Homo sapiens: one gene and its partners. The protein of the gene in region 1 interacts with the protein of each later gene in a pairwise test. Each region holds a gene or a part of one and is shown on either strand. Other genes may lie near its edges. The genes, in order: TCP11L1, IPO4, LHX2 and PAX6.

Region 1 (7,021 bases):
TATTATTATTTTATTTTTTTGAGACAGAGTCTCGCTCTGTTGTCCAGGCTGGAGTGTAGTGGCACTATCTCGGCTCACTGCAACCTCTGGCCAGGCTGATCTCGAACTCCTCACCTCAGGTGAACTGCCTGCCTCGGCCTCCAAAAGTGCTGGGATTACAGGCGTAAGTCACAACGCCCAGCCTAAATTGTTATCTTAGACTACCTAATTATAAACATCTTAGGAAACTTACTAGTAACAGGGAACTAAAATTAACAGCTTTGAACTTTCCAATATTCTTATTATATGGCACTGTCATATGCTGTTTCTTGGATTAATGTTGGCTATCCAGTTAGTTGAGAGCGATTCTTTCCAATGAGATGCTTATTGCAAAAAATCACTAACTTTTAAAATAAAGTATGCCCTCAGTTGAAGTATGCCTGGGAAATCTTTCCTTGGTCCAAATCACTGGGATTGATCTTACCCTAAACCCATAGTATTTGTGCTTTTGAAAGTGATTTGAAACTCAAATATTTTGGTTTTTGCCCCCCTCCTTTTTTTTTTCACTGCCCCAGCTTGAAGAAGAGAGTAAAGGAGATTGTACATAAAGCGTTTTGGGATTGCTTGAGTGTGCAGCTAAGTGAAGATCCCCCAGCATATGACCATGCTATCAAACTTGTAGGAGAAATCAAAGAGGTGAGGCAAAGAGTGAATTGTGATGCTTTTCTGGTGTGTTAGGAGTGTTTATTCAACTTCTTGTGTCACCACCAGAAGACTTTAAAGAAATTGAAGGATCAAGAAGTTAAAGTACTTGCCAGAAGGTGGATCAAGAGTGTTTTTGGCTTAATGCCCTTTTTTAAAAAAAAGTTTTAAGCAAACCATGATAACCTGAAGGCATTTAAGACAACAAAGTTATTTCACAAAATCTAGTTTATTTATAAATTTTAATAGGTGTGGACACATTCCATTTATAATGGCCAAAAAGTGACTCAGCCTTTGGGACAGAGAAAGCTTTAGGTGGAGGGACTGTTTTTGCAGCGCCTTTAGCAGTAGCATCAAAGAAGAAATGTATGCATGGAAATTGTCATCAGCTATGGTTGGCTCACAGGCTCACATTAATAAACATGCTTTTCTTTTTTCACCATTAACAGTTTTTTCTTCTATCCATTTAATTGCTACCTAGGGCTTAAATGGAAGCTTAAGTAGCTATTGTAAATGATTTGTAAACATGTTTTTCTGTAGGTTTGTTGAATAAGAAGTAAAATATGTGCAATATTACGTAGCAATTGAGAAGCCCTTATTTGGATAGTTATAAATTACATATAATTAGAAATGATGTCTAAAGAATTTTGATTAAACGTAGCTGTGTTCTCTTGTAGACTCTCTTATCTTTCTTGCTGCCTGGTCATACTAGACTGAGAAACCAGATAACAGAAGTCTTGGATCTGGATCTGATAAAGCAGGAAGCAGAGAATGGGGCGCTAGACATTTCCAAGCTGGCAGAATTCATTATTGGCATGATGGGGACACTGTGTGCACCTGCTCGAGATGAGGAAGTTAAGAAACTAAAGGACATTAAGGAAATAGTGCCCCTTTTCAGGTATGGAAATATGTTAATCATACTCCGTGCAACTACAATTCAGAGGCATTTTCTTTTTTTTCTTTTCTTTTTTTTTTGAGACAGAGTCTCACTCTGTTGCAAAGGCTGGAGTGCAATGGCGTGATCTTGGTTCACTGCAACCTCCACCTCCTGGATTCAAGCAATTGTCGTGCCTCAGCCTCCTGAGTAGCTGGGATTATAGGCACGCACCACCGTGCCCAGCTAATTTTTGTATTTTTAGTAAAGATGGTGTTTCACTACGTTGGCCAGGCTGGTCTCGAACTCCTGACCTCACGTGATTGGCTGCCTTGGCCTCCCAAAGTGCTGGGATTACAGGCGTGAGCCACTGTGCCCAGACCAGAACTATTTTCAATTTAAACTTCCTGAAGTCTTGGTACTCATGGATTTAAAAAAAAAAAAAAAATTTGTAAAATGCAGAAAAGTAAAAAGAAGACATTTACTCATAATTTTACCTCTCAGAGGCATAATCACTCTTATCATTTTGATACATAGATATATTTTTTATACATTAATTTCCTTCAACATTTTCTTTTGAAAAATTCCAAACCTACAGAAAAGTTACAAAAACAGTACAATCAACACTCACAAGCCCTTCATGTGGATCCATCAGTTTTTATCATGTTGTCACATTTGCTATGCTGCCCAGGCTGGTCTGGAACTCCTGGGCTCAAGCAGTCCTCCCGCCTTGGCCTCCCAAAGTGTTGGGATTACAGGTGTGAGCCACGCGTCTGGTCCTCTTTTCCTTTAATGCTATGTTTACTTTACAAATGCTTGCTTCTAAATCCTTTTTTCTTTCAGAGAAATTTTTTCTGTGTTGGACCTAATGAAAGTGGACATGGCCAACTTTGCTATCAGTAGCATCAGGCCTCATCTCATGCAGCAGTCAGTTGAATACGAAAGGAAGAAGTTTCAAGAGATTTTGGAGAGGCAACCAAGTATGTTGAATATTTTGTGGTACTTTTTTTGTTGTCTGTGGTTTTTCATTTTAGCTGCCATAGCTTGTTGCATAATATTATTTTCAGAACAAAACTAAAATTTAGTAGGAGAATAGTCTAATTTGAAGAAGGAAAAGCACAAAATGTTGGGACTACATCTAGAGTTGTTAAGCATTGAAAAGAAAACTTAATTCACAAGCAAAAGGAATGTGAGTAGGCTATGAGAATAGAAATTAAAAACAATGAATTCCTAAATTATAAATGGTTTTTTGATGAAAACACCAGTTTGAAGTAAAATACATTCTTGGTCTTGATTTTTGAAAACATGACAGACATCCTGTGAATGTTAATTCACTTTTCTTCTCCCTGTGTGGCACAGCAGGAAATTTAACTTTGCTTTTGTTCTGGATGCATAAATCTTCTTGTTTCATACCCAGGAAGAGTCTCATTTTTATGAACCTCTCCGATGACTGCAGAAAACAGACGACTCTCAGAATCTAAAACTACGTTGTATTTCTAGGGTGCTTTTTATGGTCTCTGCATTGCTAACTGACATTCTGGGTAAATTTCAGTCTTCAGATTCAATGTATGATGAATTCCATTTGGCCTCTAACTTTGCTGACGAGGAGATGAAAACAGCAGTCTCTGGGTTGGTTGGGTTGCCTGACCAGATTAGTTAAGTGAATGCCCCATGCAGTTGATTCATCCAGCCCCAGGCAGAGGAGTCTGAGGTAGTGCTGGGGCCGGGGCAGGTTGAGAAAGGACAGGGTAGAGGTAGAAGTAGAAGAAGTTTGGTAATGTTTACTAAGTGCCAGGCTTGTGCCAAGGGCTGGATGTACATGATCATATGTAATCCTCACACAGTAAGCTGATGAGCCAGGCACCTTTTTTTTAATCCCATTTTACAGATGTTGGAAACAGGTTTTGGGAGATTTTTGACCAGAATGGATTGACCACAAGCTCACACTCTCACCAGTGTTGTGAGAGTACTGGGAAGAGTTTTTTCTTGTTGTTGTTGTTGTTTTCTTTGAGATAGAGTCTCCTCACTCTGTCACCCAGGCTGGAGTGCAGTGGCACGATCTCTGCTCACTGCAACCTCCGCTAGGCAGAGTTTTGTAGCCTGAAGAGCCGTAATATTAAGGCCTGGACCTGGAAGCTGGGGCATAGTGGAGGACTCACTGGTAGGGTGGAAGCAGCTACAGTGCCTGCATCTAGCACTTAACTCACAACATGAAAGCCTGGGTTTCCCAAAGCTGGGGGGTTACGGAGAATATTATCAGCAGAAGAGAGGGTGAAGCCAGATGGCCCAGGAGTCATGACCGAGAGCTCAGGGTAAACTGGAGCTGCATCCCCCTGCCCCAGTGAAGAGCAAACCACAGCTGTGACCTTGGCCGCCCACTTGGTTTTAAGGAAGCAGGAAGCCTCCACTAACAGAGCTGCAACACCTGCTGGGACCTGACAGGTGCAGTTTTTATCAGATGATGTGTGAGATCCTCCAGCTCTCTCTCTGTATCCCTCAGAGTGCCCCCTGCATTACCAAGCTTAGAAAAGCAGGGGTGCAGGAGGGCTGCTGAAAGCCAGATGGGGCTTCCCTGACAGAGTTCACTTTCCCCCAGGTTGAAAGGAAGCCAGATTGATACAAGGTTAAGATCTAAACAAGGAAAAGCCTCATCATCAGTGTAGAGGATACTTTACACAGGGAAACTCTAGCTGGTGTCTCATCCTATCTGTCTCTAGAGCTGGAGTTGCCAGGGCTTTGGGGTCCATCTCATGCAGTGGTCAGGATGGGAGAGAAGGGAAGGAAGGTTTGTTAAATACCAGGTGGGTGGCAAGGCCTGGCTAGGTGTCATGTATTTGTTACTATTATTATTATTATTTTAGACAGGGTCTAGCTCTGTCCCCCAGGCTGGAGTACAGTGGTGTGATCACCACTCACTGCAACTTTAACCTCCAGGACTCAAGTGATTCTCCTGCCTCAGCCTCCCAGCTAGCTGGGGCTACAGGCATGTGCCACCATGCCCAGCTAATTTTTGTATCTTTTGTAGAGACAGAGCCTTGCCACATTGCCCAGGCTGGTCTCGAACTCCTGGGCTCAAGCAGTCTTCCCACCTCAGCCTCCCAAAGTGCTGGGATTACAGGCATGAGCCACCATGCCTGGCTTATTCATTATCTTGTTTAATCCTCACAACAGCCTGTGAGGTGGGTGTTGTAAATTTGCCTATATCAGGCATCTGAAACTCAGACACATTATGACTTGCCTGAGATCCCTCAGTTAGTCATTGGCACTACTATGATTTGATCCAAGTTTTATTTGATTCCAAAGTTCATACTTTATACTTTATCACTCCACCAGGACATCGATTGTCCCTTAAGTAATTCCGAGAAGCATCCCTTCTTGGTGTCAAGGTAATGTGTGCAGCTTTGTTTTTCACAGATTCCCTGGACTTTGTCACCCAGTGGCTGGAAGAAGCCTCAGAGGACCTTATGACTCAGAAGTATAAACACGCCCTGCCAGTGGGGGGAATGGCTGCTGGCTCTGGGGACATGCCCAGGCTGAGCCCTGTTGCTGTCCAGAATTACGCTTACCTGAAGCTTCTGAAGTGGGACCACCTCCAGAGGCCGTTCCCCGAAGTAGGTCTCCTGAGCCATCTCACTACTCATATTTGTTTTTGTGCTGCTGAACTTTTTAAAAAGAATAGCTTTGGCCAGGCACGGTGGCTCACTCCTGTAATCCCAGCACTTTGGGAGGCAGAGGCAGGCAGATTGCTTGAGGTCAGGAGTTCAAGACTTGCCTGGGCAACATGGCAAAACACCCTCTGTACTAAAAATACAAAAAATTAGCTGGGCGTGGTAGCAGGGGCCTGTAGCCCCAGCTACTTGGGAGGCTGAGGCAGAGAATTGCTTGAACCTGGGAGGCGGAGCTTGCAGTGAGCCAAGATTGCACCACTGCACTCCAGCCTGGGCGACAGAGCGAGACTCTGTCTCAAAAAATAAAAATAAATAAGTAAATAAATAAAATAAAAAATAAAAAGAATAGCTTTATTCTGATATAATTCATGTACCAGAAGATTCTCCCTTTTAAAGTGTACAACTCAGTGTTTTCTAGTATAGTCACAGAGTTACGCATCCATTGCCACTGTTTAATTGAGAACATTTTCATCACCTCCAATAGAAACGCTGCATCCATCAGCGGTCACTGCCCTCCCCCCCTCCCTCCAACGCCTGAAGCCACAGATCTGCTTTCTGTCTCTATGGATTTGCCTATCCTGGACATTTTATTTAAATGAAATCATACACTACCAGCCTTTTGTGCCTGGCTTCTTTCACCAATGTTTTTTCACGTTGTAGCACATATAGCAGTAGTTTAGTCCTCTTTTCCACTGTGTTTTTTTTGTTGTTGTGGTAAAATACACATAACATAAAATTTACCATTTTAACCATTTCTAGTTGTCCAGTTCAGTGGCATTAAGTGCATCCACATTGTTGTGCAACCATTGCCACCAGCCACCTCCAAAACATTTTCATTTTTCCTTCTGTGAAACTGTCTTCCCACCAAACACACCAAACAGTAATTCCCATTGCCCCCGCCCTCTGGCCCCTGGCAGCCACCATTCTACTTTGAGTCTCTGTGAATTGGACTAATCCGGGTACTTAATATGAGTGGAATTATACAATCTTTGTCCTTTTGGGTCTGGCTTATTTTACTTAGCATAATGTCTTCAAGGTTCATTTATGTTGTAGTATGTGTCAGTGTTCCCTTTCTGGGTTTTTTAAAATTTTTTTAAATTTTAGAGACAGGGTCTCATTGAATTGCTCAGGCTAGGTGGTACGACAGCTCACTGTAACTTTGAACTTCAGGGCCCAAGTGATCCTCCTGCCTCAGCCTCCTGGGTAGCTAGGACTACAAGAGTGTACCACCACCCCCAGCTAATTTTTAAGTGTGTTTTTTGTGGAGACAGGGGTCTCGCTATGTTACTCAGGCTGATCTTAAACTCCTGGCCTCAAGTGGTCCTCCCTCCTTGGCCTCCCAGTGTTGGGATTACAGGCATGAGCTACCATGCCCAGCCCTCCTTTCTTTTTTAGGCTGAATAATATATTTTACTGTATGGATGTACCACATTTTGTTTATTCATTCATCAGTTGACAAACATTTGGGTTGTTATTATAAATTATGCTTCTGTGAATATTCCAGTACAAGTTTTTGCATGGACATATGTTTTTACCTCTCTTGGTTACGTACCTAGGATTAGAATTGCTGGGTTACATGGTGACTCTTAAGTTTAACATTTTGAGGAACTGCCAAACTGATTTCCAAAGCAGCTGCATCATTTTACCATCCCACCAGCAATGTATGAGGCTCCAGTCTGTGCTGCTGAATTTTTCTCCTGTTTTTACTCATCTTGATGGAAACCACAACAGAGGTGTGGTTGTTCACAGCTTTATCTAAAGAAACTTCTTCCCCTTCCATGCTGAACAATATTTTTTT
Region 2 (7,485 bases), on another chromosome or scaffold:
ACCAGGACAGCCATGGTCCTCCCTGTGGGCAACCCTCACCCTGGGACAGGGGAATACATACCTCTGCCTGATGTGGTCGCCAGCTCCGTCAGACAGCACGGCCAGCACCAGGAGTCCAGCTTTGCGCTGGTATGGGCTCTCGCTCCGCAAAGCCTCTTCCAACATGGGCATCTAGGGAAGCATGTGGCACGCTTCTGAAACCCCAGCAAGAGCCTGCCCATTCCTGTGGTAATAGGCCTTCACACCTCCCAGGGTCTAAACGTCGTTGGCCTCAGGGGGACTAGGCACACTTGGAGGTAGGGACACCAGAAGGACAGAGCCACACTTACCAGCTGGGGACAGAGCTTCTCGGGGGGCAGGTGTAGTGCCAGCATGTCCACAACCTGAGATGGGATGGGGAGACTTACTTTGCTTGACTCCATCTCTGCCTCCCCAACGTCCCACAGCCACCTAACACCTTCCCCCTCTGTCCTGCCCCACATCTCACTTGTACAGCGAAATGCTTGGGAGTCTCCCCCATCAGCTCAATCTCCAACTCTTCCTCTTCTGAATCCTGGTCCTCGGGATCCAACTGGCCTGGTGGGGGCTCAGCAGCCACAATGGGGAAAAGGGTGTGCAGCAAGGGTGGCAGGAGACGATTCTTCAGTAAGGCCTTGACAGAGAAGGTGGAACAGTGTCCCTAAGAATCTGCTCCCAGGATGGGCTCACATTAAAAATTCCAGTCTTCCAGGCCATAAGGGGTCTGACAGAAAATTCCCAACCTCCCAGGCAGGAGCTGGGGTGAGGCCAGGCCAAGGCTTGAACCCCCACAGTACTTTAGATACCCTGAGATGGACCGAAAGCCCCAGGAGTGAGACTAAGGGTGGAGATGGGGGTGGGGTGATGTGTGTCAATGGGCACTCACTTACCTTGCTCTTGACTTTGACCAAGAAAGTGAGGCAGCAGAGAATACGTATGCGTATCGCATTGCCCAGGGCCACATTTCTAGCTACCTGTCCACAGAATAATAAAAATCAGCGACAGGGAAGGAGAGTCCCAGCAGAGCATGTAGCAGGGGCCATGTCCACTCCAGGCTCACCTCCAGGCAGAATGTGAGGACTTCAGAGAGGTAGGGGGTGATGACCGGCACCTCTGACTCCAACAGTTCATCCAAAGCCTCAAGGGCCTCACAGGCCTTTGCCTGACAGACAAACAAGGCACAAGGTTACCATGCTCTTCTTCAGTGGGCCAAACTGGACACTTCTGCACTCTCCTTCCAACAGAGCTCCTGCCCACCTGTCCTCACCTCATCTATGGGGATCAGAGTCTGCATGGCCATGATCAGCTTGGGCACCAACATCCGAGCGAGAGGCTGAGGGACACATCACAGAGAGCATGATGCAGCCCAATCTCACACCCCAGCAGCTGGCAGCTTCCTCACAGCCTGAATTGCGAGGAGGAGCCCAGGCATAACAGCCAGGCCCACCTACAGCATCCCCTCTCAATTGTCAGGAAGGGCCACAGGCAGGTAAAGAATCCAAAGCAGCTTTGTAACTTTTACGGGTGAGGACATGAAGGCATGAGGAAAGGGAGTCAAAGATAACGAGGGCCCACATCTCACCACATCTTCAGTGCTGAGGTAGGGAGCCATGGTGGTCAGAGTGCGCAGGGAGTAGAAGAGCAGCCCAGGAGAGCCCACCTCACCAAGAGTCTCATTCAGAAGCCGAAGAAGCTCCCGGTGGTGGGGTTGGAAGGCCTCGGGCCGGGAGGTCACCACCACACTTAGCAGCAAAAGCCCCATCTGTCCAAGAATAGAGGATGGGAGAGCAAGCTTACAAGGTCTATCCAGCCTCTCAGGCCCTCCCTCCTGCCAACCATGTGATGGTACCTCTCTCTCTGGGCTGTGGGGGCTGTGGGTACTGTGCTGAAGCAGCTGCAAAAGCTGTGGCCAGGCCTCCAAGCCTTCCTTTCGAAAAATGGTGGCTGAGAGCTGGGCCAGGCTGAGGCTCACACAGTGCCTGCAAACAGGAGAGATCTCCTCCAATCACCCTTCAATACCTTCCTCTGCACACAGTGGCCAGGCTCAATGGGGCAGCCAGGACAGAAACTTTCAGGAGGTGTGGGCACAGGGTCTTTGCCAAGTTGGGACACATGAGACAGCAGCTCAGAGGGAGCCCAACAGCACTGTGGGCATGTAATCTGGTAAGTTCAGTCTAACTTAGCCTGAATTTCAGTCTTATTCTTCTGACTTGGGTTTGGCAGATCATCATCACCCTTCCTCAAGAACTTTAGTCTTCAAAACAGCCTTAAAATCCTCACTCCACCTTGCGTCTAGAACTGAAGTCCCTGCCCCACAAGTCCCAGCCTGGAGCCGAAAAGGAAGGCAGAAACCTAGACAAAGTCGTCAAGATCCCGAGAGAAGTGGGTAGGTACTTACTCTGTTTCTCTCTGCAGGGCCGTCAGGATCAGGGACTTGAGGCTGGAACACAGGTGGCAGGTGTTTGGTACCCAGCCTGCCCAAGAAAAGTCTCCGCCTGGCCCCGCCCCACCCCAGGCCCAGCCCACCTCTCCCGTTGCTCCGCCGCCAGCCGTCGCCAGCGGGTGTTCAGTCGTCTGCGGGTCAGCACGGCCGCAAACTGGCGGATCTAGGACGAGGAAGCAAGCACGTGGGGGTCCGGGCAGGAAGGTGCTGAGCGGACCGCAGTGGGCGAATACTGGGGCTTGACCGGTGGCGTACAGTGGGAAGCTCGGAGGGGAGAGTCAGGGGTCTCACCTGGGGGTCGGCCGCCGAGGCTAGCAGGTCGCAGAGAGCCGGCAAAGCGGCGGGGGCCCGAAGAACGATCTGGAGCTGTTCCGTGGCCTGGGGGGAAGCTAGGGGTGAGAGTTGGGCCTTTCCCGCAACCTCCCGCTCGCCCTGGCCCGGTTACGCCTGCTCCGTACCCGACGGATGCGCTCGGTGTCCGGTAGCAGCAGCTCCCGTAGGAGCTGCTCTAGCCCGGCTGACTCCATGGCAGCAACTGAGCCGCCGCTACTGGGCCGAAAAGGGGAGGGGGAGGGACAGCACGTGGAGGTTCTGACACCCACTTCCGGAGGAAAGGGCGTTGCTGCACGCCCCGCGGGTTGCCAAGGTGATTCAATTCGCTTCCCACAAAGAGGTCCGGCTCCTCCACTTCCGTTAGGCTGAGCACCGGCTGAATCGCGGAAACCCGACTCTGGCAATGTAGGTTCCCCACGCCGGGAGTTCCCAAGCTGGGTTGGAGAACTCGAGCTTCGGGCATTCAGTGGCCAGCTCGGCTTTATAAAGGACCGTGCCCTTAACAGCAGGGCTCGAGTTCCTATATCCAGACCAAAACCTCCAACTGCATGAGCCTTTTTCTTAATAAATTTTATTTTGGTAATTGTAAAAAGAAAAATCAGGACCAAAACTAAAGGCAACTTAAAAAGTTCAAATATATAATCCTTATGTGATAGAGATTTATAATTTCCAGGCCCTCTCTGGGGAAGGAATGCCCAAAGGGCAAAAGGGAAGGCAACAATGCCATCACACAATTCAGTCAATCAGAAGAGAAGCTGGTAGGAGAGTTCAACAGGGCATGAAGAAAGGGAGAGAACAGCAATAGTTCTGCCATACAGAACTCAGTCCATCTTGAGGTTAACATAGATATACCGGATGAACTTTAGGGAAGAAAAAAAGGAGATGGTGCCCAGCATGAGGAAGAAGACATAACCAGTGAGTAAGGAGTAGCCGAAGAACTCTACTGTCTGTACTGCCCCAGACATGTTGGAGCGCCGGGCATAATAGAAAACTGAGTAGAGGAAGATGAAGAGGCCGGTGGAGCCAACACTCAGCACAGATCGCCACCACCAGCGGTAATCCTCCCCAGACAACTGGAAGTAGGTGAGTGCAATGGAGATGCAAGCCCCCACACTCAGCAGGATGGCGAAGACAAAGAAGAGGATGCCGTACAAAGTGTACTGCTCCCGACCCCATACTGTGGCAAAGATGTAGTACAGCTCCACAGAGATGGCACTGTGAAGAAAAGAGATGATACACAGCATTAAAGGGCTGTGCACCATCAGCACAGTGGCTGGGCTGAAATCCAGCCCCCACCCTCTCCCATGTTGCTGGGTCATTGTGAAAAGTGAGTTCACTCCACTCTCTGCCCCAGATCTCCTGGCTTCATGGGGATTTTTTGCCTATGATTAGCCGCTCTCACTTCAAGAATATCTTCCCTAATAGATTGAGGGCAGGGATCTTGTCCATTTTATTCCACTTTATTCTTTGCCTGGCACAAAGAGGTATTCAACAAAGTAAATGGGTCATCAAATGGGCTTTAAACCCCACATGATGTCCATAGGCATTAAAGTCAGAAACCAGGAAGGTGAAGGGGGAAATGTCTCCGGAGAGCTTTATAAGTGAGACACTCTCATATCATTCAAGCTCAGTCCTGCTTGGGGATAGGAGGAACCATTTAATGATCTCTGAATGGTACCACTGAACCAGGGATCAACGGGTTGGGTTAGGGTACTGGATGAGTAGGGACAGGAAAAATTGAGGTCAGGAACCTGACAGTAATAGCCATGGAATAAAGGGAGGATACCTGAAAGGCAGGAAGCCTCCAACAGTCATGTGGATGACAGTAGACTTGTACCAGGGCTGGGGTGGAATCTCCCGGGCGATGTTCTTGGTGCGACAGGGTGCATCAAAGGGGCTGGCGTTGTTCTTCCCAAAGATGCCTCCAATGACAGTGAGGGGAAAGCCCACCAGCAGCCAAACCGTCAGAAGCAGCAGGATGGTTGTGGCTGGCAGAGCCTGTGTCGAACCATTGGCCCAATGCACTGAGTTCACCACACTCCACGTCAGGAAGAAAGGCACTGCAGGGATGGGCCCCCGGAGGGAGGGTCAACACTAGGAGCTACATCTCTAAGGGCACCCACTTACATCCAGGACCAAAAGGGGAGGGGGCTGAAGCAGCCTGCCACTCTAACGGCAGACTCATGCTCCTGGATGTCCCTGCAGAGTCGACTGCCTTCACCTCCACCCTTTCAGGTCCCATTATTCTTTGTTCTGTGTTTTTTTTTTTTTTTTTTTTTTTTTTTTGAGACAGAGTCTCGCTCTGTCGCCCAGGCTGGAGTGCAGTGGCGCGATCTCTGCTCACTGCAAGCTCCGCCTCCCAGGTTCATGCCATTCTCCTGCCTCAGCCTCCCGAGTGAGTAGCTAGGACTACAGGCGCCCGCCACCACGCCCGGCTAATTTTTTGTATTTTTAGTAGAGATGGGGTTTCACTGTGTTAGCCAGGATGGTCTCGATCTCCTGACCTGGTGATCTGCCTGCCTCAGCCTCCCAAAGTGCTGGGATTACAGGCATGAGCCACCACACCCGGACTCTTTGCTCTTTATCTTACCAACACCATCCCCCAACCCGGTGTCATTAAGGATCCAGGTAGCTACTACATAATCTGAGAGTAGCACAAATCCATCTGCCTCCAGGGGCCTGTCTTGCCTTGGAGTTGGTAATTCCTAGCATGAGACATTCCTTTGGATTAAGGCCCTGTTTTCAGAAAGCCTTGGTTCAAATATAAATGTGATGGGATAAAAATCAGACACACAGAATTGGGAACAAGAAGGGTTCAGAACAGAGACTACTACTGCCTTTGAAAGGGCAATCTGGTTTGAAAGCCTAGAGTGGGCCCACCTTCAAAATAAAAATTCAAGGGTGTTATTTTAGTGTAATGGGTGAGAATACAAGTCAGACTGCTGAAACCTAGTTCACTACTTTTTAGGAGTGTAATCTCAGACAAGTTACTTAAGCAGCCTTTAGTTCAGTTTCCTCATCTGTGGAATGGAAATATTACCTACTTCACACAGTTATTGCTGAGTGCTTTCCACACTGCCTAGGACATTTTGAGGGCTTAGTAATTTTAAACTATTCAAAAGAAATGCATTCTTGTTTTTTTTTGGTTTTCTTCTTTCTTTTACAATATTCCTTCCCTTCAAGCCTCATCCTGACTCTATCCCAAGTTCTATGATGTGTTCTTTTTTTTTTTTTGAGACAGTCTCACTCTGTCAGCCCAGCTAGAGTGCAGTGGTGCAATCATGGCTCACTGTAGCCTCAACCTCCCTGGCTCCCCAGGCTCAAGCAATCCTCCTGGGTCAGCCTCCCAAGTAGCTGGGATTACAGATGTGAACCACCATGCCCGGCTAATTTTTTGTTATAGAGAGAGGGTCTCACTATGTTGTCTAGGCTTGTCTCAAACTTTTGGGCTCAAGTGATCCTCCGGCCTCGGTCTCCCAAAGTGCTAGGATTACAGGTGTGAGCCACTGTGACCAGCCACAATGTGTTCTTCATTCCTAAGTCCAGAAAGGCCCACCAGGGAAAGGAAAGTCCTCACCAGAGAAGAGACTGGTGGTGAGAATGATGTTCCACACCCAACGCTCGCCTCCAATCTGCCGGTAGAAGTGGCTGGACACGTAGCCAGAGATGCAGCAGGTCAGGGCATACAACAAGATGGCTGCTGAGTTAATGGCCCCATGACGGTGCACATTGAACATGCCCAGCAGTGCCATGACAATAATGCCTGCAGGACGGTAGCGGAAAGCCCAAGTTAGGCCTCACCTGTGTCTCTTCTAGCAATTTCAGAGGAATCAGCCCCCCTTCTCCCAGACCCAGGGCCTCCAGCAAAACAATCTCCCCCAGTTTTGCTATCCAGAAAATCTACAATAGAATACGTGCATTCTTGCTAGAGCCACCCTATCCCTTAGGTCTGCCCCTCTGGATAGAAGAGAAGATCCACAGACCTTTTCTGAACAAACTCCCTACCTAGTTCTATCCCATGAGATAAATCCCCAATTCATTTTTATCACCTCACCAGTGCCAAGGGCCAGGAACTGGGCACCCACGCCAAGCACAGCACAGAGCAGACCACGGTATGGGGGGAAGCGGAAGACATCTGTATGGATAATTTTCCAGCCATTGTCACCCTGGTCAAAGTCATCACCAGAACCTGCAGAGGTGGTCTCCTCATCTAAGTTGTACCGAGCCAGGTCATTCCGAAGCACACGCATTAGAATGACAGCCACAAAACCCACCAGTAAAAACACAAGCACCATGGAGTTGATGATGGACAACCAATGGATTTCCAGTGTTCGAGGAAAGAAACCACCATCGTCACCACGGCGCCTGTCACTCCGACGCTCCACTGAAGTCTCAGACCAGCGCACGCTATAAGTGTGGGTAAGGCCTAGGAACTCGTCAGGTCGTAACCCATCCAAGCTGTGGGGCTTGACGTCCCGCACTGAAACATTGGCAAATATAATTCGGTCTCCATGGAATTCTAGGTGGAAGTCCAAATGGGTCCAGAGTCCTATCTTGTGGCTGTGTGGCAGGAAACCACTCTCCTCCATGTAGCCCACAAAGCCCCGGATTGGCAAGTCATCTACCACAAATTCAAAGTAGTACAGTTCTTCAATGGCCTGGCGCAGCTGCTCCACCTATAAAGAGCAAGT
Region 3 (7,021 bases), on another chromosome or scaffold:
GAAACTAGAGTGGGTAAGAAGCAAGAAGCAGGAGCTAATGATAGTCACCTTGGGTGTACGTCCTGGGATGGGGTGGGGCGGCCTCTAGATTTATCTGAAATGTTTGAACCTTTTATGATGTGAATGTGTGTAAAATGAGTGTCACTTGAATAATAAACAGAAACTAAGAATTGTTTAGAAGAAAGAAAAGAGACCGAGTGTGGAGACAATGAGGATGGAGCGATACGCAAACAGAAAAACAGAGAGGCAAAAACTGAAAAAGAGAAAAGACAAAGTAAGAAAAAAAAGACTGAAATACAGATGGGGACAGGCTGGAGAGGTGAAGAAAGAGAATGAGAAAGATTAAACACACAGAGAAGCAGACACAGGGTGGAAGGTCCTTCCAAGGCCCACGGCGAGGGGTGCAGGGTTCCACCCCAGTCCCTGGTGGTCGCAGATGCCCTCACCCCTGGCCCTGGCTGACCTGGAGGACCCGCTTGGTGAGGCCCGTCTTTTGCGCGAGCTGCTTCAAGTCCTTGGCGTCGGGGTTGTGGTTAATGGCAAAGTAAGACTTCATGGTCCGAAGCTGGTGGTGCTTGAAGGACGTGCGCATGCGCTTGGTCTTCTGGCTGCTCGGGTATGGCTGGTCACGGTCCAGGTGCTCTGCGTCGTTTTCGTTGCAGCTTAGCGCTAGGGAGGAGACACAGAGCCGGTGGGTGAACTTCCTGACCCGCCCCCCATGCCAAATCCACACTCGCCCCACCCACTGCCAAACATTTCAATCCTTAACCCTGCTGCATGTCTGCGCCACAATGAAAGGGGGACATCATCCCCATTTTATAGATGGAAACACTGAGGCTCAGAGACAGCGATCCACCCAGGATCACACTGCTAAGAACTGCAGCACTGAATCCCGGCTCTGGGAGAATCCAAAAATCATTCTGAGCCATTATGTTACAATAAGAACAATAGTAGCAGCAGCAGCAGCAGCAGCAACAACAGCTACGACTTGTTGATGGCCGATTGAACTCCAGGTGATGTGTTAAAGGGCTTTCCAGGCACATTTTCTTTAGGTACTTAAAACAATCCTAGGAGCACCAGGTATTATTTTTCCCGTTTTTACAGATGTTGAAACTGAGGCTCAGCAAGGGAAGTCACTTGACTTTGGACACAGCAGGACAGGGTCTCTGGGCCTGCCCTCCTCCTGTTTTCCAAGGCACTCTAAGGAGGAGTGCTTTCTGCCGTCTCCCCCTACCGTGTCTGGGACCGGCACCTAGAAACTGCTGAAACAGAGATTCATGTTCATTTTGCCACACCCAAAAGTACTGAGGGACCCCTGGGCCTTGGGCACTGGGCCAAAGGTTGGAAACTGCATTTTGCAGTTTAATCCTCATCGCTACCCTGTAAGATGATTGTTTCTCCGTGAACAAGTGGAGCAAATTAGGCTCGGGGAAGTTCAGAGATCTGCGGCAGTCCACAGAGAGCGGCAGAGTGGACGGGGAAGGAAGTCCGAGGCAGAAATAAACATGTAGTAGACACCTATGGTGTGTGTTTGGCTTTACAAATGTCACTGTACATCATTACCTCTCAGAGAGGTGGCTATGACTATTCCCATTTTAGAGATGTGGAAACTAACGCTAAGGGAAATGAAGCCACTTGCACACTGCCACACCACCGGTAACCAGCTAGATTGATCTTGATCTGTTGAGCCTAGATTTAGCACTGGAGTACTCCTTGTTTTCTTCCACTACACCACGAAGGGAGGAGGGAGCCTGTCCCTAACCACAAGGAGCCTCATGGGGGCCACGCTGCCAATGCCTGGCTGGCATTGGGGGTGGGGAATATGGGTGAAAACCTGGGCCTCAGAAAATTGCTCAGCCACCTGGAAGCTGATGGGGACCTGCAGGACCCCTCCCAAGGTCGCCTCCTCATGGCACCTCCCGAGCCATGCCACACTTAAGGTCTTGCCTTGGGGTAAGCCTCATAAGGGGTGTACATTCGGTCCGCCTAAAGTGAGAACTGAGAAGGTATCTTGTGCCCTCATCACATACCCGTAACAGAGCTCTAGATTTAGCAAATGAAAATACAGGTTGCCCAGTTAAATATAAATTTCAGAAAAATAATAAGTAATTTTTTAGTATAAGCATGTCCTAAATATTGCATGGGACATACCTATACTAAAAATGTATTTGTTGTTTACCTGAAATTCAAATACTACAGGTGACACAGCTATGCTAAAAAATTGTCATTTATCTAAAATTCAAATATTACACGGGACACTTATACTACAAATTTCAAATTTATTCGTTATTTTTCCAAAATGCAAATATTGCCGGGGACACTTACACTAAAAATGTATTTGTTACGTACCCAAAATTCCAATTTAACTGGGGATGCTGCATTTTGCCTGGCCACACTACCTCCAAAGGACTTTTACTCTGCTGGTGACCTCCCCCTTCCCCTGCCCAGATGGGGAAGAGCCCCTTGCAGAGAGAATTTGCAAGATACAAGTCTTGCCCCTGCCTTTGGAGCTGTTAGCTAGGGGCTACACCTCCTAGGGGCCTCTTTCCACCGGCACTCAGGTCCCCTCACCCCCGGGGCTGCATTCCCACAGAGAGCACGCCCAGAGTGAAGAGCGCGGGTCCGGCAATTTAAAGGGGATCAGAGGATGCCTCTGAACCTGATCCACCAGAACTGCTTGGAACCCGCTGAGGTGAGCAACCCTTTTCTTTCCCCCAGTCCCCAGCTCCACTGGGGGTGGGGCAGCCTCCCTACGGGGTATCTTTGGGCCCATCCCTCCACCGAGCCCCCGCCTGGGCCTGGCTGCTGTTAATGAGCTCCGTGGGGACCCCGGCGCCCCCATGGGCCCAAGGGACCTGCCCTGAGTGCCGCCTAGGTGGGGTAGTAGTGCGGGGGAGGGGGACAGAAAGGGCAGAGAAAGGAGAGAAAAAGACAAACACAGAAAGGCAGAATGGAGGGAGAGAAAGAGAGAGGGGGTAGGGACGGAAGATGGACAGAGCCAGGAAAAAGAGAGGACAGACAGAGGAAAAGAAAGCGAAGGAGCCAGGAGAACCACAGAGAGACAGCTACAAAGACAGCAAGAAATAGGGAGAGCGGAGGGGAAAGCGAGTCCCGGAAACAGGCGCAGCTTGTGGCGAGGGTCCGGTGGCCGAGCTGAATCCCGGGGCTCCGGGAGACCCGGTCCCTGCGGGGGAGGCCTTTTCCGAAGCCGTTATTGGCGGGGGAGTAGAGAAAAGGGGAAAGAAGGGGAGTGGAGAAAAAGGGAAAGGAGCCGGCCCTAAGTAGCGAGGCCGAGGCCGGCCAGAGGCAAGGGCAGGGGGCGGCGGCGGGGGAGGCAGCCGTGGGGCCCAGGTTTGGCCGGCGCCCCGAACCCCCTCACTCCCGCCCCCAGTGCCCGGGGGCGGGTCGAGATTCCCCAGGATCGGATCCGGGGAGGAGCGAGGGGCCGAGGGGAGGGGGAGGACCCGGGCTTTCTCTCTCCTTTTTTTTTTTTTTCCTCTCAATTAGGCCGATTCAATGGAGCTAAAGAGCTCGTAAAATCATGAATAATTTACTCGTGATCTGTTATTAACCCATCGGGTTTCGAGCTCTTGTCGCTGGGACTGAACCTGTAATCAAATCTGACTTCGCCTCATTTTACTAAAGACGAGATTGTAGGTTCAATTGTCTAAATAATGGATTGGAATCAAATCAGTAATTACGCCGCCAGGCACACACACACAAAAAGCTGGGGCTGGGGGAGGCCGGGCGTCCGGCCGGTCCGCGCGGGACTCCCGCGGCCGCGGCGCGCAAACCCAGGCGCAAAGTGCGCGGCCCGGGCCCCTCGCCCGCTCCTGCCGCCGTTTTCGCACCCCCAGCCCGCTGGCAGCCCCTCCCGGGGTAGGGGGAGGTTTCCGTTCCACCGGGGCCCGGGCCCGAGGGGCTGCGGGAAGAGGCCGCTGCGGCCCCGCCCCGGAAGGACTTTCCGACCCCGCGGCCCGCGGCTCTGCTGTAAGCCCAGCGCCCGGCGCCCCGACGGCGCCCCCTCCCCACTCGGCCCCCAGCTCGCCGCCCTTCAGTAAGGTGCCGCCGCGCCTCGGAGGGACTGTCCCCAGAGCAAGAGGCTTTGCAAGGGGTCGTCGTGGCTGGGCCACAGGATGTGGGACACTGCCACAAACAAGCTCGTGTCCCCGTGGTCGGAACCCTGCACGCACACGCACACGACCCGCGCCCGCACACCCCGTCCGCGATCGCACCCTCCAGGGTCCCCGCTTTCCAGTCCTAGCTGCCCCGCGGCCCACACTGCGGCCATTTCTCTCCTGCCAGTGCGGGAGGGGAGGGAAGGGCGGACGCCAGATCTAGGAAGACTGGGCTGGGCCCCGAGAGGCCGGGGAGATGCCCTCTTTCCCCAACCTAGTCCCGGGAGCCCCGAAAGAGCCAGCCGCATAGCCACCGCCGGCGCACCGAACGCCGTTTCTCTCAGGACTAGGAGCCCCGGCCAAGGTCGGAGAGGAGGGCACGGGAACAAACACGACACACACAGAGACAGAGATAGAGAGAAAGGACGGAGAGAACGGAAAGGAAAAAAAGAGAGAGGGAGGCCAGAGAGAAAGTGAGATGGCTGAATGGAGGGTGTCTCTTGTAGAGGTTAAACAAGGCTTGAAATTCAGCCTCCAGCCCACCTCGCTGGGGCAAACGGCGGCTGAACAGCAAAAAGCAGAAATAAATCTCTGTACCTTCTACTCTCTTTTTGCACAATCCTAAAACCGGCGCCGAACCTCCGTGCCCAGGAAAACAATACAGCTCCCCAGCCACCAGGTGCCCTGGAGCCGAGCCCCGCGAGGTGCTTCCGAGTGGAAGTTGACCCACTTGATAAATAGAAGCGGCTTGGTGTTGGGGGAGCCGGTCTGAACTCGGTTTTGTCTTTTTTTGGGGGGTGGTAGGAGAGGAGGGATGGAAGTTCCAGAGAGCTACATCTGTGGTAGTGCCTTCAGCAAATCTTAAATCCGCGCCACCGACCGGCCTACCGCTGCTTCACCATTTACCAAACTGGGGGCTGCGTTTTCCTCCCAGTTCCGCACACAGGGACACACGCCCCATGATCCTCCAAGCGATTTCGTTGGAGCGAACACCCGCCCCTCATTTCCCTCTCTATTCAACTCAGATTCTTTAAGATGAAAATAACTGACTTCTTCCCGCCGTAGCACCCTCTGCACAGTCTTGGGTTTGTTTTTGTTTTTGCTTTTTTCTGCTTGTGCATTAGACTAAAGGGAAAAGGAAGAAGAACACAAAATCTCCAAATCTAATTCTGTTGCAAACGAAAGAAAGAAAATAATTGCACATAAACTCTAGTTCGGAAGCCCGGAGAGTCATAAACCTTTCCGGGCCTTGCAGACTTCGGGCAGATGTTGACGGCTCATTTGCCGGAACTCAGAACCTCTGCAGCTGTCCTGAGCAGGGAGGGGCGCGGGAGGGGGCAGAGCTTCTCCGGGAATGGCCTGGGGTTCAAAGATGCCGGAAATCCGAACCAAGCCCCCCACCTCACCCCACCCCACCCCACCCCGGCGCGAGGCCAGGCCTGCTCCGGTCTCGTCCCCGCCCGGGGGGCTCGCTTCCGAGGGTCACGGCCCTCACCCCAGCAGGCGCCAGGAAACTCGGAGGAAAAAGTCCGGGAAAACTGAGACCTGTCTTTAAAGGAGGATCGGGCCGAGCAAAAGGAACCGCAGCCTTTGCTTTCCTGAGTTCCCCAAGCCCGAGTTCCCCAAGCCTGCCGCCCTTGGGACATTTCACGAGGTCAGGCCGCACTCCAGGCCGAGCTCGGCGCCCCGGGCCACAGCCAGCCCTTTCTCTTGGGACCCTCGCCGCCCTGCCTCGTTCCTTCGCTGCCCCAGTTCCCGGCCCTCAGCCGCGCCAACCCAAAACCTGTTTGGCGTCAGCGCCGCCTTGCTTTCTCCATCCCTGCCACTTCCTGCCTAGCAAAGTGGGGCAAAGGCCCAAACCAAAAAGCCATCTCCAAAAAAACAATTTATCAGAGACAAGGCCCTGCACCCGGAGCAGCAAGGGACCACTGCACCCTCTCCTCCCGCTCCAGCCGAGGACGCACAGTCTGGAAGCCCAGGGGGCTAATGTCCCTTCTGCGAGGCCGTCCGGTGCTTAAGGCTCGCTATTTGCCCAGCACACAGAGATTCAATCCAGCTCCCGGCCGTCGAGGCCGCACACTTTCCCCCAACCCTATGGGGGCGCTTCGTGCGCCGCGCACTCACCAGCGTTGTAGGCCGCCAGATCCGCACCGGGGCCCGGGCTCTTACGTTTCCTCGGCCGCCCCTTCTGCACAGTGCCCACGCCATTGTAGTAGGGAAGACCCAGAGGGTTGGCCCCTGCTGCGCCCAGCCCCGCGCTCTTGGCCGCCGCGGCTGCAGCGGCCGCCGCTGCCACGTCGGCATGGTTGAAGTGTGCGGGGTACTCGCCCTGCAGCAGCGCCTCGAAGTGCAAGCGGCAGTAGACCAGGCTGTCCTTCATGCCGAAGTGGTCGCCCGTGGTCAGCATCTTGTTACACGTGGTGCACGTGAAGCAGTTGAGGTGATAAACCAAGTCCCGAGCGCGCATCACCATCTCCGAGGCCGAGATGCCCAGGTGGCAGCGGGCGCAGCGCTGCACAGAGAAGCGCCTGTAGGGACCATGGAGGGAGGGGCTGTGGGAACACACGGTTGGGTACCCCCCTTTTCCTCCTCCAGGTGCCGCTGCTGCTGCGGGGGGCAATCCCCTCCTCAAGACGAACAACCCGGCCTTTATTTGGAGGATGGGGGGGAGAGAGAACTAGATTTTGACCCAGGCCTGGTCCTGTCCTAAAATAGTTTCCCTTAACACACTTATGCCTACAGAGACTTCTACTTCACCCAGAGTCTCCGCAAGCCCTAGGAAAGCCTTTACCTGGGAGTGGAGGGAGACACTTACCACTTACCCCCTCCTCAACCTTTACTCCTCCCTCCAAACCAGCGCCTGGGAATCCTACTGACTTTTATAATTTGGAAGAAACACAGAG
Region 4 (6,980 bases), 1.2 Mb from region 1:
ATGAAATGGAAAGCAAACTTTTCTAGGAACCCTATTTGCAAAAATCGGAGAGTGCCGCTGATTTCAGTTGTCCTACATGTCAGGAGTTTTAAACCTAACTCCTATCTGGACAACAGCATGGAGGGACTGGGAGGCAAAGCCTTGGGAGTCTGACCCGCTGGGCTGCTAGGAATCCCTTTGCTGGGAGACTCCACTGGACAATGTTATTTTAAAGGTATTTTGGGGGTGGGCAGGGAGAAGACAGAGAGAGAAAGAGAGAGAGAGAGAGAGAGAGAGAGAGAGAGAGAGAGACAGGCTGGCCTCCCAGAGCGAACGGAAGAGGACTGAGGACTGAACCCAGGGAGCCCCTAGCACTGGCCATTTGGCAGGAGGCGAGGAAGGGCGAGGGCACCGCGGCTTCCCCCCAAGCCGAGCAGTGGCCACAGCCTGAAGGTGCCACGGGGCGGCTCTGGGATCTTCTTGGCTTTTCTAGGCTCTGGGCTCGGCGAGGCTGCCGGGTTAGCGGGAACCGGCAGGTTGCTGGAGAAAGGAGAGGGACAAAGGCCTGGAAGTGGGGGAGGCACCAGGGACTGGGCGGCCGGGATGGGAGCCTTTGCCTTTAGGGCTCACTGGACCCGTTTGCCAGCTCCGCGGACAAGGGATCCCACCTTCCCAGGGTCTGCAAAAAGAGAGACGTTTGGGGCACTACAAAGTGACGCAGGTGTCTGCCAAGACTTTCCTTCTCCAAAAAATGCCAGTCTTCACCCTTTCCAGCGCGCCGGCGCTGCGCCTCTGCTTGACCGGGGAAAGAGAGAGTTTGGAGGTGTCAGAACTGTCAGAACTCCGGATGGGAGGCTCTTGGTTCTGAAGCTGGGAGCTGGAGGCACTTCCCCCCAGAAGTGGGCACTTCTTTGCCTCCCCGAAGGCCTGATGGGGTGGGCACAGGGGAATGCCAGGGATCGGTGCGGGTGAGATGCTTGCCTCACCTCATGTTGACGCATCAATACTGGCTAGAAGCTCTGGGCAGGCTCTGGCGAGCCACGGTCCCCCAGCGGGACTCCCTCCACGCAGACAGCCCCGCTACCGGGTGGGACGACCCCGGCGGCCCCCGCGGGAACGCACCCGCCGGCCTGAGAGGTCCTCCCTCTGGCCACAGGGGGCGGAGGGTAGGGGGGAACAGGGGCCTGTGGGGAGGCGGGGAAAGGAGACAGAACCTAAAGCGCAATCCCCGCCGCCCCCCCGCGTCTTGGAGGGCAGCAAGTGGGCCTCGGGCGTGTTGGTAGCCGCAATTAAAATGGCGACCTGCGAGTTGTCTCGGTTTTGTACACACCTCTGGCAACCGCGCCCGCACCTCAGTCTCGGCCCCCACACCCCTAGGCCGCTTCGCCCCCAGAGCCGGTACTTGGCAGAGGGAGTGAGGCTCCCCACGAGGTAGAACAGCACCCCCACCTTCCTTGAGACCAGTCCAGAGAGAACGAGGAAATCTCACTCTCACCCCTCTCTCCTTAAACTTTGAAAACTCGGCCTCATTCTGGGGTTGAACTCCCCTCCCCAAATATTGACACATGGGAAGCAGCCAAGTCCTTTTTGTTTTTTGTTTGTGCGGAGGAGTTTCCAGGAGTCTTTCCCGGAGCCCCCTTCCCCACCCAATGACGTCAGTGGCATTCACTCCTCGCTCCTTGCCTTTTCTGATTTTTTGTTAAAACTTTTCTCCGCAGCGAGATGGGGGTTGGAGGGGTGGGAGAAGGAGCTGATTCAAAGAGCCAGTGCCCTGGGGGGAAATAGCAACAAGATTACGGCTGCTTCTTTCCGAGGCAAAGCTTAAGAAGGTGCTAATCCACTCGGTCGCTAATTGAGAGGTTGTAAAAATGATACTCGCCTCCAGTTCGGACAGAATCACTTCCCCCCCCCCCGCCCCCCCGCAAGTCCCTCGCTCATGCACAGCGGACTTGAGTCTTGAGTCCAAGCTTCTTTAATGCTCGCTTGGAAAGTAAAAGGAGAGAGAAAGAGAAAGCCGACTTTCGCTGGTCTGGGACTCAGGGCCGCGGCCCCACTTGCCGGCATCCTCCGAAAGTCGCGCTCCTGCGAAATGAAACCTCGCCCAGGAGGCCGCGGACCTGGACACCCGGCGCCACCTCCTTCACCTCTGACCCAGGTTTCCTCCCGGCGCTGCGAGCTCCCGGGGAAGGGTTAGAGCCGGCAGCCCTCCCCAGCCCGGGGAGGGGAGAGGGTTATGCGACCCCACCTCTGGCTAGGGCCGGGGAGGCCTTTGCTTCCCGGGAGCCCTGCCCGGGCTCCTTGGTCGCAGGGCTGCTGGGTCCCAGGCAGGAACGAGAGGGTGAGGCCCACATGTGGCCCGGCGGCCCAGGGCGGCTTGCAGCGTCCTCACTGTCCCGGCTGCCAGGGGCTGCGGCGACGCGGCCAGTCAGCAGCGAGTTCAGGTCGCGCAGATTTTATTGATGAGCTCTGACTTTCAGCACTTTCCCTAAGTCAAGAAGAGTCTAGCGTACCCTTCGGCTGCTTCATTTCAGCCTCCCTGCCTCAGCTCTTCAGCCCTATTCCCCCTCGCCCTGTCCTGGGGTGTGTACAGCAGCCCAGGCCTTCCTTCTCCTTCCCGGCTCCGTGGCCCGAAGCCGCCGAGAGAGCTCGGGACAGCGCAGGACCAGGCAGCCGCTCGCTCTCCTGTCACCTTAACTGCAGGCTCCGAGGGGCGCCTTTGGAGTGTACTGAGGTGTGTCCTAATCGTGCGGCATTCAACAAATGGACTTCTGGTGTGTGGTCAGAAGAGAAAAGCCATTTACTTACTTTCCTCCCCGGTTTTCTGGCAACAGCTGAAGGGGAGCTGCCTCCGTGGACTGAGCAGACCCAGGAGAGGGAGTCGTGGTGCGGAGACACACGCACCACACACAGATGACCGGTGGCACACACGACACACGCTGACATACCGACATCGCCAGTGGGACACACACACACACACACACACACACACACACACACACAGAGAGAGAGAGAGAATCCCTCCCAGCATTGGTCATCCGCCCCCCCACCCAGGCTTCCACTCCCCCTCCCCTCTTATCTCCCCTGGCTTCCCCTCCTCTCGGGCGCTGCGAAAAGCAGCCGCACTTAGTCAACAAATGGCACGTGGGAGAAGTTGGTGAGTGTTTGGTGAGGACTCTTCAGGGCTTTTCACAAGAACCCTCTGTACACAAAGTAAGTGGCGTGTTTACTCGGGCCTCTCCAGCCAGAGCTGTGCCTCTGCTCCGCTGCGCACCGCGGCTTCCGAAAGGAGAAAGGAGAGAAGAAAGGGCGGGGAGAGCGGGGTGGAGGATTTGGACAGGCCCTGGAGGCTTGGGCTGGGGAGGCCTCTGGCCTCGTTTAGTTCTCGGCCCGGCAACCTCCTCTCGGCCTAGGCTTCGCCGCGGCCTCCGCAGCTGGAATGGAGCTGCCAGGACCCAGTGACGCTCCCGCCCCTTTCCTCTTCTTCCAAGGGGCCAGGTGGGCTGGGGTGCGGCCGCCGCTGTGCTCTGTGTCTTGGGGCCCCGGCTGGGATGGGGTGGGGGCGGGCGGGGGCGGGGCGGCAGGCCACGCTGTCCTGGAGTTGGCAAGAAAGGACAGCACAGAAACTTGCACCCTCCGAGGACTGGGAGTCCCGAGTCCAGCTTAGGGGGAGTGGGGGCGCGACCCCCAACCCAGAAACCTTCACTTGACCGCTCAAGTTCGCGGCAGCAGGGCGGGCCGCGCCGAATCTCGGCGTGCGCGGAGCGGGGAGATGCAGGCGAGCGCCAGAGCCCGGGCTCGGGGGCCCTGCGCCGGGGAGAGGAGCCGGGACCCACCGGCGGAGCCGAAAACAAGTGTATTCATATTCAAACAAACGGACCAATTGCACCAGGCGGGGAGAGGGAGCATCCAATCGGCTGGCGCGAGGCCCCGGCGCTGCTTTGCATAAAGCAATATTTTGTGTGAGAGCGAGCGGTGCATTTGCATGTTGCGGAGTGATTAGTGGGTTTGAAAAGGGAACCGTGGCTCGGCCTCATTTCCCGCTCTGGTTCAGGCGCAGGAGGAAGTGTTTTGCTGGAGGATGATGACAGAGGTCAGGCTTCGCTAATGGGCCAGTGAGGAGCGGTGGAGGCGAGGCCGGGCGCCGGCACACACACATTAACACACTTGAGCCATCACCAATCAGCATAGGTGTGCTGGCTGCAGCCACTTCCCTCACCCACACTCTTTATCTCTCACTCTCCAGCCGCTGACAGCCCATTTTATTGTCAATCTCTGTCTCCTTCCCAGGAATCTGAGAATTGCTCTCACACACCAACCCAGCAACATCCGTGGAGAAAACTCTCACCAGCAACTCCTTTAAAACACCGTCATTTCAAACCATTGTGGTCTTCAAGCAACAACAGCAGCACAAAAAACCCCAACCAAACAAAACTCTTGACAGAAGCTGTGACAACCAGAAAGGATGCCTCATAAAGGTGAGTCCGCTTCTTTCTTCTCGCTTTATTTTTATTGCAATATTCAGACAGGTCTCCCCCTTCCTCCCCCCTTCCTTCCTCCCCTCTCGCCGGTCCCCTCCCCCACTGCTACGCCGGGAGAGTTGGGCCGGAGAAGTTTCCACGCAGGAGCCCAAACTTTCTACTTCCAGCGAAAGCCCGCGTCGGAGGGCGACTGCCGGCGAGCGGGAGCGGCGCAGGGCTCGGGGCGGGCGGCCAGCTCAGCCCCAGCGCCAGCGCCAGCGCCAGCGCGGGCTGAGCTCGCGGGAAGAAGGGAGACTCCAGGCGCGACAGCAGCCGCGGCTCCTAGCCCCAGCGTCGCCCAATGCTCCCGACCCGCGGGAAAAGACGAAGAGGCTCTGTGGTGCCCAAGGCCCTGGAACGGCCGCAGAGAGCAACCGCTGCCGGCTGCTTTGTCCAGCCCGAGGCCCAGCGAACGCGCAGAGAGCGGGCGCTCCGAGGACTCGCCGAGGGAGCGCCGAGGGAACCTGCTCGCCGCGTCTCCGCCCGCCCGCCGGCCCTCGGGCTTTGTGCCGCACTGGGCTCCGGCGCAGAAGAGTCAGCCGGCACTCGAGCGCCGAGGGGGGCACCGCGCCCGCCACCAGCCCGAGTGGAGTCAGTCGGCAAGGCAGCCGCACGCTGGAGGTAGAGGGAAGAGCGAGCTAGCGCGAGCCGGGAAGGAAGCCACCAGGCCAAGGCGGTGGAACGCGCGCTCCGAGGGAGCTCAGAGCCGAGCGGGAGGACTGTCAGCTTCCACCCAGCCCCCGGGCTCTTGCCCCCAACTCCACTGGAGCGCTGAGCTCGGAACTTGAAAACTCTCTGCTCCCCAGGCTTCCCCCGACTCTCATCTCCCTTGCCTTGCGGAGGCTGGGGCTCTTCCCTGTTCTCCGGCCCCCTGCGCTTGGTGGGTATTTTTCCTTGTTTTCCTCTGATCCAGTCTCACCAGGTGTTGGGATTTCAGCAAGTTTTGAGGTGCAGAGTTGGTTTGCTTTTTTGTTTGTTTTACTCCGAATCCCCTTATGTTTTTCTTGGTAAGGCCTTGAAAATAAATCTGTATGAAAGCATTGGCCTTCCCCCTCGTCTGATCACTTCTTCTCCCGGCTAATTAGTCGGAGTAATTTGAGAGCTTTCGATTCTAAGATCCCAGGAGGAAAAGTGTCTTTTCAAAGTTCATAAAGTTGTTGCCTCTTTCCTTGTGCAGATTTTCTCAGTCTCCCTGCGCCATAATAGCCCTGAATTTTAGCAAGTGTAATTGGGGGAAATGGAGTTGAATTTCAAGTGGAAATGCTTTCTTTTTCGAGTGCTAAAACCTGGCTCTTCATTCATGAGCGATTTCTAGAAAGTTTAAAAACAAAGTGAACGTGGTTTCTTTCTTTCTTCCTTTTTATTTTTCTTATACTCTCCCAAGCTCCCTAAGCCATTCTGGACGTTTAACTCGAACTTGGGAAGGTTTTAGAAGGGGCTGGGAGCAGAAAATGAAATGAAAGGCAAAGAGCTTGAGCCTGGCGAGTTTACTGAAGAGAAATAATAGTTGTTGCGGTTGACATTACATTTTTTATAGCCAGTGACCTTTGCAAAAGCGTGAAGGCAGTTTGATTAGTTGTTATCTTATTTGGCCCTAGAGAGTAAAACTTTGTCATCATAATTGCTAATTACTCTTTTGGCTGGGGGCGGGAGGACCGAGAGCTCTCCCCTTTACCTCAGTTAAAGAGTTTGGGGATGGAATTTGAGAATTAAGTAATTAAAAAAAGAACAGCATTTGAAAACTGAGGCTTGTGTTGGGGACAGAGAGGTGGGGGCAGTGACCACTCTCTTGTGGTCCAAGGCTGGGGCGACTCCAAAATGTCTGGAGACTCCTTCGTTCAGGATGTGGTTCTATGGCCCCAGCGAGGCCGTACAGAGCCTCGGGCTGAGCTGGGGGGCTGAGGCTGCAGTTGGGGGTCTGACCTCTCCGGTGCACAGGACTGCTTCCGGGTGTCGATGTGCCCCACTTCCCGGGTTGCTTCTGCACTTAGTGTTCACGTTTACTTAAGTAATTAGATAGCTTCTTAGCGAGAGGGAAGTGGGAATGGAGCAGAACTGGAATTTGAAATACTACCACCTTCCCAGCTGCTTCGAAAACTAATCAACGAGGCCTCTTTGTGCTCAGCTACTGAATTTAAAAAAAAATGGTATCAAGAAGTTACAAGCCAGGATGGGAGCATTCTGTTGTGATTGTGCACAGCGTGGGTTACAAAGTGGAGTTCTGGAAGTTTTACCCCTCCTAGGGGAATTCCATTCCCCATCTCCCCACCTACTACTCCTTTGCAGCTTCAGGGTCCTGCATTTGTTGGGGTGGGGTATTTTGCATTAGAGTTGGAGATTTTGCCTATCCAGGGCATGGCTATGGGTGCCGGGACTGAGAGACAGGAAGGAAGCATTGGAGAGCCAACCTAGATAAGGGTAACTAGTAACCCTCTGCTGTGGCCAGTATTTACCCAATGCTGAGAAAAAGTCCTCATTTTCGGT

The links.
Region 2: the proteins of TCP11L1 (region 1) and IPO4 interact in binary tests that used the Homo sapiens proteins (3 or more experiments, as listed by UniProt).
Region 3: the proteins of TCP11L1 (region 1) and LHX2 interact in binary tests that used the Homo sapiens proteins (3 or more experiments, as listed by UniProt).
Region 4: the proteins of TCP11L1 (region 1) and PAX6 interact in binary tests that used the Homo sapiens proteins (3 or more experiments, as listed by UniProt).

Annotation. Positions count from the first base shown.
Region 1 is NC_000011.10:33,056,561-33,063,581, forward strand, and holds part of TCP11L1 (T-complex protein 11-like protein 1), read left to right. Parts: intron 1-554; coding exon 555-675; intron 676-1,358; coding exon 1,359-1,579; intron 1,580-2,398; coding exon 2,399-2,535; intron 2,536-4,954; coding exon of another isoform or gene 4,955-4,969; coding exon 4,970-5,166; intron 5,167-7,021.
Region 2 is NC_000014.9:24,185,800-24,193,284, forward strand, and holds the start of IPO4 (importin-4), read right to left. Parts: upstream 3,018-7,485; 5' UTR 2,989-3,017; coding exon 2,920-2,988; intron 2,840-2,919; coding exon 2,753-2,839; intron 2,625-2,752; coding exon 2,545-2,624; intron 2,459-2,544; coding exon 2,417-2,458; intron 1,998-2,416; coding exon 1,868-1,997; intron 1,781-1,867; coding exon 1,601-1,780; intron 1,352-1,600; coding exon 1,286-1,351; intron 1,181-1,285; coding exon 1,079-1,180; intron 993-1,078; coding exon 909-992; intron 653-908; coding exon 488-652; intron 384-487; coding exon 330-383; intron 172-329; coding exon 62-171; intron 1-61. Other genes in the region: TM9SF1 (transmembrane 9 superfamily member 1 isoform a precursor), read right to left, coding at 3,616-4,009, 4,581-4,854, 6,372-6,557, 6,849-7,470. UniProt on the Homo sapiens protein: Nuclear transport receptor that mediates nuclear import of proteins, such as histones, RPS3A, TNP2 and VDR. Serves as receptor for nuclear localization signals (NLS) in cargo substrates.
Region 3 is NC_000009.12:124,014,747-124,021,767, reverse strand, and holds part of LHX2 (LIM/homeobox protein Lhx2), read right to left. Parts: intron 6,647-7,021; coding exon 6,243-6,646; intron 670-6,242; coding exon 464-669; intron 1-463. UniProt on the Homo sapiens protein: Acts as a transcriptional activator. Stimulates the promoter of the alpha-glycoprotein gene. Transcriptional regulatory protein involved in the control of cell differentiation in developing lymphoid and neural cell types.
Region 4 is NC_000011.10:31,808,302-31,815,281, reverse strand, and holds the start of PAX6 (paired box protein Pax-6), read left to right. Parts: upstream 1-3,959; 5' UTR 3,960-4,167; exon of another isoform or gene 4,168-4,266; 5' UTR 4,267-4,441; coding exon of another isoform or gene 4,442-4,454; intron 4,455-5,322; exon of another isoform or gene 5,323-5,376; intron 5,377-6,980. UniProt on the Homo sapiens protein: Transcription factor with important functions in the development of the eye, nose, central nervous system and pancreas. Required for the differentiation of pancreatic islet alpha cells.